Linked DNA regions of Homo sapiens: regions 1 and 3 are each linked to region 2. The links come from fine-mapping of genetic effects on gene expression. A gene starts in region 2. Each other region holds a variant in brackets. All regions are shown on one strand. Distances are between the middles of the regions. Region 1 overlaps TRAF2 (TNF receptor associated factor 2). Region 2 holds the start of MAN1B1 (mannosidase alpha class 1B member 1). Region 3 overlaps DPP7 (dipeptidyl peptidase 7).

Region 1 (2,500 bases), 170 kb after region 2:
AGCTGGCCAGGGGAGGGTCTGCACCCACGGCCTGCCCCTCTCCATCCATCAGGCACACACCTCAGCTGGGGACCACCTCTGGGCCCAGTACTCCTCGAGGGTCCTGACCTCAAGGGGCTCCTGTTGTACAGGGCAAGACGGACAAGAGACAAAGACACGAGGTGCTGGCGACAGAGGGGCAGAGTCTGCAGGGGTGGAGCAGGGGGGTCCACCTGGAGAGACCCAGGCGCCTGGCCATTGTGCCAGTGCCCAAGTGCCTGGGGTGGGCACAAGTGGGCATGCCCAAGGAAGCTCAGGCCAGCGAGCAGGGCAGAGGAGATAGCTGAGGGGAGGGAAAGATCACAGGAGCAGGCCACTCTGAATGAGAAGCCATGAGGAAGAGCTGTGATCGATTTCCATCTGTGAACAGGCCAGAACGGAAAAGAACGGGGGTCCCATAAGCGCCTGAGCCTGGGTCCCAGTGAGAGATGAGGATGATGTGGACAGGGCAGTGACGGCTGGGGGGACCATTTGAGGGTAGACGAGACCTCTGTCAGCCCGAACGTGAAGCATGAGGCGAGAGGAGGGGCCCGAGTGCCTGCTGGTGGCGGAGGGCTCAGCGACAGCCGCTGGGTTAGAGTGCTGCCCTTTTCTGTGTGAGATGGGGGCAGGGAGACAGCGGCCAAGGAGTGGTCGTGGCGAGCCGGCCGGGTACATCTGAGACGTGCACTCAACACCCAGGGAGGCTCAAGGCGACAGGTGGGCACACACACTGGGCATCCTCAGAGACAGGTGGCAGTCAAAGCCAGGCACTACAATGCCACCAGGAGGGAGTGGACAGGGCTGCCAGCCCAGAGACCAAGCTGGGAACACTCGGACAGCCGGGGCAGGAGGAGGCAGTGCTGCAGAGGTGGCTGAGGAGCAGCTGGAAGGAAACCAGGAAGCACTGGGCTGGAGGCAGTGAAGACCACACCCAGGATGAGGGGTGGCCCCCAACCTCAGACCCCCCGACTCACCGTCTCGAGGCAGCCGATGGCGTGGAATCTGCAAGGGACTCGACACTTGCCACAAGTCTTGACGTGGTCCTGAAACTACAAGGGAGTGACGTCACAGAGCCATCTTTCTCTGTTCTGATGCATTTCAGCACTTCCACATGGACCACACTGACTGACACAGAGGTTACATGACCTGCCCCGTTGGCCTCTTCACTCTCACACTGAATGAAACCCAACAGCCCATTTCCAAAGCGACACGCTCACACACCTGTGCACACACACGTGCAAACATGCACACTGTGCCAGTAACTGAGATGGGCAAGCATTTCGGGACACCTGTGGAGACCCCAGCTTGTGTGTCACATGGCACGCCTGTCCCTCTATCACAGTCCACAGGAC[ATGCGGTGCTG/G]AGGCCTCAGGGCCTGGGTTCAAAACCCAGAATCAAACGCCCACTGCTCACCCGGTGCGTGGTGGTACAGGATGACACAGACACGACATGAAGCAAAACGTAAAATCCAGAAAGGGGCCAAGTGCACACAGACACTCACATACAACAGGAACATCGAACCAGGGAAGAAACAGAGACTAACACTGTGGTATCTGACATGGGTCTATGGATGCAGGAACAGCCCGAGGAAAAACATGAACCCCAAGTTCCTCCTCCATTTCCCAGGTGACATGGCAGGTGTGTCGCGGCTCTGAGTGTGAGAAAACCAAACCCACACATGCCAGACGCAGCACAAGATTTCATACCCGGAAGGAGGGAAACGGCCGTAACTGTGAATCAGTTTCCAGAAACAGTCACATAAGAACCTTGAACAATTTCCCCCAAAACAAACAAAAACCAAAAACACTATTCAGTGGGCAGGAGTCATGAACAGCAAGAGAAGCACAGATGGGCTCGGTCACACCACAGCTTGGGAAACGCCCGTCAGAACCGCCTCGAGGCTCTGCTGTCCCTTGCCACCCATAGGAGGTTGGTCTCAGGGTCCCTGAAACCCAAGGATGCTCGAGTCCCTGATGGAAGATGGCAGAGTGTTTGCACAGAGCCTAAGCACACCCTCCCTCATACCTGAAATCAGCTCTCGGTGACTCATGACCAATACAACGTGAACGCTGTGTCAATAAAAAATGTCCGCGCGTGTTCAGTGCATTTTTACCTGAACATTTCCAACCTACGGTTGGCTGGATCCACGGCGTGGACCCCCGATACAGAGGACTGATGTGTTTCTCACACATCACAGTGGCACGTCCAACCTTCACACCACACTGTGCTGGCAAGTCTCGGGAGACGGTGCTCCCACAATGCTTATGGGAATGCAAATTTCTGAACGACCGCACGGCGCTGCGGACGGGGAGCCTGACACATTTCCCTCTGACGTCTCAGAATGCACCTTTTTTGTAGTTTTCGCTTTGGTGCCATGTAACCATTTTACAAAATTACAAAACTTTTTTTTGAGACGGAGTTTCTCTCTTGTTGCCCAGGCTGGAGTACAATGGCATGATTTCAGCTCACCGCAACCTCT
Region 2 (2,836 bases):
GAAAGGCAAGGAGGAAGAGAATCATATTCCGCTGCAATCTCGACAGTTGCTTCCATTTCTAAGGGAGGTACAGAGAATGACATTTCTTACTGAATATATCACACGGAACGTCTCAACTGTCACAAACTGTGAGGACAATAAGGAATTCTTCTGGAAGATCCAGTGTTCAGCTCTATTTCTTTTTTTTTTTGGAAACAGGGTCTCATTCTGTTACACCTAGGCTGGAGTGTAGTGGGTGGAACGCGGGATGAGCCACCGTGCCCGGCCAGCTCTATTTATTTTGAATGGGGAGAAGTTCCCTCTCAGCAGGGAGTAGGAACATTGCTGGGACAATACTACAGATGTCGTTAATACAGTGGTGCAGATGAGACGAGGATAAGAAAAAAGCAGAAACATTTCTGTCACATTTCATCAACAGTGGAGAAAGACTCCTGCGACTCCCACAGATGTAGCCCAGGCACCGCCCAGGCGATGCACAGTCCGCATGTGGTTATCAATGCCCTTCGGCCTGAGACCACCACGAACAGACCAGGAGCCAATCAAGAGGGGCTCATTTCTCACTGTACCGAGGGGAGCATACACCACGGGGAACCTCCGGTTTCCGCTCCAAGAGGGGCAGGCGCCTGGGCCAGGACCTTGCAGAAAAGCGAACGAAGCCCAGAAAACCTGCTGGGGCTCTGAGCCCTCTTCCCACCACCGCCCCGCAGAATTTGGGCCGCTGAGACCGCTGCAGGCGAGCCGCCCACGGCTGCCCCAACCAGGAACGCACATTTGCCCCTTTTTGCGGGGAAGGGGTGGAGAGGGCGGCGCCTGGGGAGTCGAGTCCGCCCGCCCAGGTCCCGCTCGGAGCCGCAGTCTGGGAGGGCGGCGGGCACGGCAGCCCCGGGCCCCAGTCAGCCCGGCGCGACCCTCACCCTCCAGCACGAGCGCCGCCGCCAACTCTTGCTGTTGTCATAGTTCTCGCCAAAGCTCAGCGTCACCGAGATGAAGTCCCGATGAGGCGGCGGCGGCGGCGGTGGGTACATGACTACAGTGGTGGCGACGGCCCAAGGGGCCCCGCCCACTGGCGGCGTCAGGAAGTCCGACTGAGAGGAACCGAGAGCTCCGCTTCTCCTGCCCTCGCAGGCAGCCATCGCAGCGCCGTCAACAGCCCGCCCATCACACGGATACGCGACTGCGCGTGCGCTGCGTCTCTATGCGGCCAGTGCGCCCGCGCCTGTCTCCGCTGCGCTCCAGCGTACGGGGCTGCGTCCTACGGCGACTGCGTCAGACAACTGCTGCGACTCCGCCCTGCCCTCAGGTTCATTGCGCATGCGTCCGGCAGCGCCTGCCCAGGTGTGCTACGAGCGTAGCTGTAGCAACGGGGCGGGCCTTGGTTCGCCTGGGGCGTGGTCGCTGTCTGGGGCTCCCACGTGGTTCGCCTCATGGGCCTGGAGCTGGGCTTCTCTCGCCTCCTGTCGTCTGGCTGCACCGACTTTGCCCACGCCCTCACGGGAGACGCAGACACTAGGGACCCGGGGAGGCGCCCGGGCGGGGCCGCCATGTTGGCAGAGAGTCCCAGCGTCCCGCGCCTCGGTTCCGGAACCCGCGGCGCGGGGATGGAGCTGGGCTGCCCTTGGGCGCCGTCCTGGGCTGGTGCCCACCCTGGCCGCGTGGTCACCGGCAAGAAGCCCAGGGCCTCACCCAGGCGTGGGGGCCGGGGGAAGGACCGGACCCTCCCGAAGTCGCGGACCAGGCCGGGCGGCACCCGGGCTGGGGTGGCTGCTACCCCGAGCTAAGCTGGCTGCGCCGCATCTCACGGTCCCCGGGGCCCGAGCGCTGCGCCTGGACCGGCGCCGAGCGAGGCGGCCAATCGGCCGGCTGGACCCACAGTCCCCGCGCCATAGGCGGGTCGGGGCTTTCAGACCCGGCTCCCAGCCCTCGAACTCGGTAACCTTGGAGGTCAGCTTGAGATGACTGCGCTTCCTGCACGCGTTGTCCTCCCCAGAAACGCCCAAAATGGCAAAGCGGCGTCCGTGGCCGCCCGAGGCCCTCCCTGCCTGGGTTCTCCCCAGCCGAACCTCACGCCCGGCCCCTCCTTCATTCTCTCCTGGCCAGGCTGCTCCTGCCCTTGGGCGAATCCGCTGCGTCCCACGGTCCTGACTGTGGCATTTCTGCGTGTCTGGAGAGCTCCCCCGGCAGCGACGTCCTGCTTAGCACGTGGCTCGTCTAACTCTGTTCCCCTGGCCTCCTGCTCTTCTAGGGGTCATCTTTAGGTTTCTGCTGGTCTCTGCCCCCTGTGACACTTGCTGGTACCCAAATGAAGTCGTTTATGTCACACTCTAACAAGAGGCCCTGAAGAAGCCCTCACAAAAACATTAGCAACGGAGCGCCTGCGGCAAACCCTTCTAACCTTTGGTCTTTATGGTTTCAAAGCAGTTTATGGGAACTTCTCTTTTTTAAAAGATTCCCCTTGGGGCCAGGCGCGGTGGCTTCTGTAATCCCAGGACTTTGGGAGGCCGAGGCAGGTGGATCACTTGAGGTCAGGAGTTCAAGACTAGCCTGGCCAACATGGTGAGACACCCGTCTCTACAAAAAACACAAAAAAATTAGCAGGGCATGGTTGGTGGCAGGCACCTGTAGTCCCAGCTACACGGGAGGCTTAGGCAGGAGAATTCCTTGAACCCAGGAGGTGGAGGTTGCAGTGAGCCGAGATGGCACCACTGCACTCCAGCCTGGGCAACAGAGCAAGACTCTGTCTCAAAAAAAAAAAAAAAAAAAAAAAAGAAATTTCCCGTGGGCGGGGCACAGTGACTCATGCCTGTAGTAATCCCAGCACTTTTGGAGGCCAAGGTGG
Region 3 (2,642 bases), 24 kb before region 2:
TGGACACCTGGGGCGTGTGGCCCCGGCCCGACTGGCTGCTGACCAGCTTCTGGGGGGGTGGTAAGGCTGAGGGGGGGTGGGCCAGCGTCCTGCTTTCTGCCCCGAGCTCTGCACCCCCTGCCCATGGCTCACAGCCCCCGTGAGGGGCCCACATCACAACTTTCTCTGCCCCTTGCAGATCTCAGAGCCGCCAGCAACATCATCTTCTCCAACGGGAACCTGGACCCCTGGGCAGGGGGCGGGGTGAGTCCTGGCCTGGGCCCTATGACCCCGTTAGTTTGTTTGTTTTTTTTTTGAGACAGGGTCTTTCTCTGGCGCCCAGGCTGGAATACAGTGGCGAGATCAGGGTTCACTGCAGCCTTGACCTCTGAGGCTCAAGCCTCCCAGTAACTGGGACTACAGGCGCTCACCAACATGCCCAGCTAATTTAAAAAAATATTTTTTTGTAGAGACACAGTCTCACCATATCGCCCAGGCTGGTCTCGAACTCTTGGGCTCAAACGATCTTCCCCGCATGGCCTCCCAGAGTGCTGGGATCACAGGCCCCTCGCCTGCCCCTACCCTGCTCCCGTCTCACCCCCAGAGTGCTGGGATCACAGGCCCCTCGCCTGCCCCTACCCTGCTCCCGTCTCACCCCCAGAGTGCTGGGATCACAGGCCCCTCGCCTGCCCCTACCCTGCTCCCGTCTCACCCTCAGAGTGCTGGGATCACAGGCCCCTCACCTGCCCCTACCCTGCTCCTGTCTTACTCCCAGAGTGCTGGGATCACAGGCCTCACACCTGCCCCTTCCCTGCTCCTGTCTCACCCGGTTTTGCCCCCATCATCTCGTCACTTCCCACCTCCGTCTCTGGCTGGTTCTCTCTGGTTGCTTGATGGGCACTGAGTCTCGGCTCGCCCTCTCACGTCTCCTCTCCAATGGGCCCACGGAGGCTGGGCAGTTGCCTCGTTCCTCACCTGATGGAGTTCTTTCCACTGACCACAGATTCGGAGGAACCTGAGTGCCTCAGTCATCGCCGTCACCATCCAGGGGGGAGCGCACCACCTCGACCTCAGGTGCGGAGGGAGGTGGCCTGGCGGTGGTCGCGGGTCGGGCGGGACAGGCTCACCGAGGGCTGGGGCTGACGGGCCCCCTCTGTGCCCGCTCCCCAGAGCCTCCCACCCAGAAGATCCTGCTTCCGTGGTTGAGGCGCGGAAGCTGGAGGCCACCATCATCGGCGAGTGGGTAAAGGCAGCCAGGCGTGAGCAGCAGCCAGCTCTGCGTGGGGGGCCCAGACTCAGCCTCTGAGCACAGGACTGGAGGGGTCTCAAGGCTCCTCATGGAGTGGGGGCTTCACTCAAGCAGCTGGCGGCAGAGGGAAGGGGCTGAATAAACGCCTGGAGGCCTGGCCATGTATGTCCCGTCCTTCCTGTCTGTGGGGCCCACAC[G/A]CAGGCTGTGGGAGCGGGACCCTCGGAGACACGGCTGGGGACGCGGCGCACCCCACACAGGCCGGGTATGCCATGTGCTCCACAAGGTAGAGGCTCCACAACGCTCAGGTCTGCTCCTTAGGGCAGCGGGGGGCAGTGCCCCGCAAGGAAGCCCCGCTCTGCTGAGCCGCAGCAGACAGAGGCTGCAGCCACACCTCCAAGGTGACTCCTTCCCTGACATCCTCTGTACACAGCGACCCCTCCAGGGGAGGCCACTGGACAGTGCTTTTGGCCCCCAAGGGGCATGCAGTTGCTGTCCCTCCACCCTCTGGGACCACGCCCCCAGCACGTTAGTCTCGGAGGTCTGGGTGAGATGGAGAAGGTGCACCTTTTCCGGCTGTTGAGGCCCCACCTGCTGCCCTAGTCCTGCCCGTTCAGCCGGCCATGGGGCACCTGGTCCAGGAGGGCAGCACTGGGCCCACCGTGACAAGGGGCGGGCTAGGGTGGTACTGACAAGGGGCAGGCTAGGGCCGTGCTGGGCCCACCGTGACAAGGGGCAGGCGCCAGGGTCACATGACAGCCGATGTTCTCACCTTTCCAGGCACAGAGGGTGGAGTGCAGGATCAGGGCCCAGCATGAAGTGGGAGACGAAGCCCCAGGGTGCCCACTGTCCCCAGAGGGACACAGGTGGCTGCTGTGGGATGTTGGGGGTTGTGGGGACAGGCAGAGCCGAGGCCCACACTCGGGGCCCGGACGTCCCGAGGGGCGGAGCTGGCAATCCTGGGCTGGGTCCGGGTAGCCCTGCCCTGTGCCGCCACCGGCTCTGGCTTCCCAGGGAAGGGGAGTCTTCCGGAAGTGAAGGTGATGGATTTTTCACAGGGGAGAGCGAGGGGGCGTGGTCCTAAGAGGTCACCTGGTTCAGGGTCGGGGGGAACCCAGCCAAGGCCCAGGGTCAGCCCTGGGATAGGGACAGCAGTAGAGTGATGATGAGGACAACTCTGCCACCACAGCCCAGGGCTCGGGGCCATAGCCATGCCAGGCTGCTGGGAGCTGCCTGACCTGAGGGCCCGTGTATCCCTCAGCTGTGCGCCTCAGTGCCAGCCCTGCAGGGAAACAGGCCCTGTGTGAAACGCAGGCGCAAGGATGCCTCCCGCCAAGCATCTGCCCCGTGGGGCCAGGGACACGGAGCTTCCCCGTGGCCTCTCCCTGCCCACCAGCAGGGGACAGCTAGAGTCCAG

What was found. PIP is the estimated chance that this variant, and not a neighbour inherited with it, causes the effect. A credible set is the group of variants that fine-mapping cannot tell apart.
Region 1: its variant is the best candidate, but not a certain one, in a credible set for the expression of MAN1B1 in skeletal muscle (FUSION, PIP 0.58).
Region 3: its variant is the best candidate, but not a certain one, in a credible set for the expression of MAN1B1 in vagina (GTEx, PIP 0.81).

Annotation. Positions count from the first base shown.
Region 1 is chr9:136,915,111-136,917,610 of GRCh38, reverse strand. It overlaps TRAF2 (TNF receptor associated factor 2), which reads right to left. Exons shown (of 11, transcript NM_021138.4): 7 at 996-1,070. Among named protein-coding and RNA genes, the nearest start is that of FBXW5, 28 kb to the left of the region's middle. The variant ATGCGGTGCTG/G (reference allele first, on the strand shown) is at 1,374.
Region 2 is chr9:137,085,297-137,088,132 of GRCh38, reverse strand. MAN1B1 (mannosidase alpha class 1B member 1) reads right to left here and starts at 1,148. Exons shown (of 13, transcript NM_016219.5): 1 at 915-1,148; 2 at 1-58. The coding sequence starts at 1,133. It overlaps MAN1B1-DT (MAN1B1 divergent transcript), which reads left to right and starts at 1,316. Exons shown (of 1, transcript NR_027447.1): 1 at 1,316-2,836. RefSeq lists silencers at 785-1,014, 1,565-1,794 and an enhancer at 995-1,224.
Region 3 is chr9:137,109,291-137,111,932 of GRCh38, reverse strand. DPP7 (dipeptidyl peptidase 7) reads left to right here. Exons shown (of 13, transcript NM_013379.3): 10 at 1-60; 11 at 179-243; 12 at 983-1,053; 13 at 1,150-1,387. The coding sequence ends at 1,285. Among named protein-coding and RNA genes, the nearest start is that of DPP7, 4.1 kb to the left of the region's middle. The variant G/A (reference allele first, on the strand shown) is at 1,426.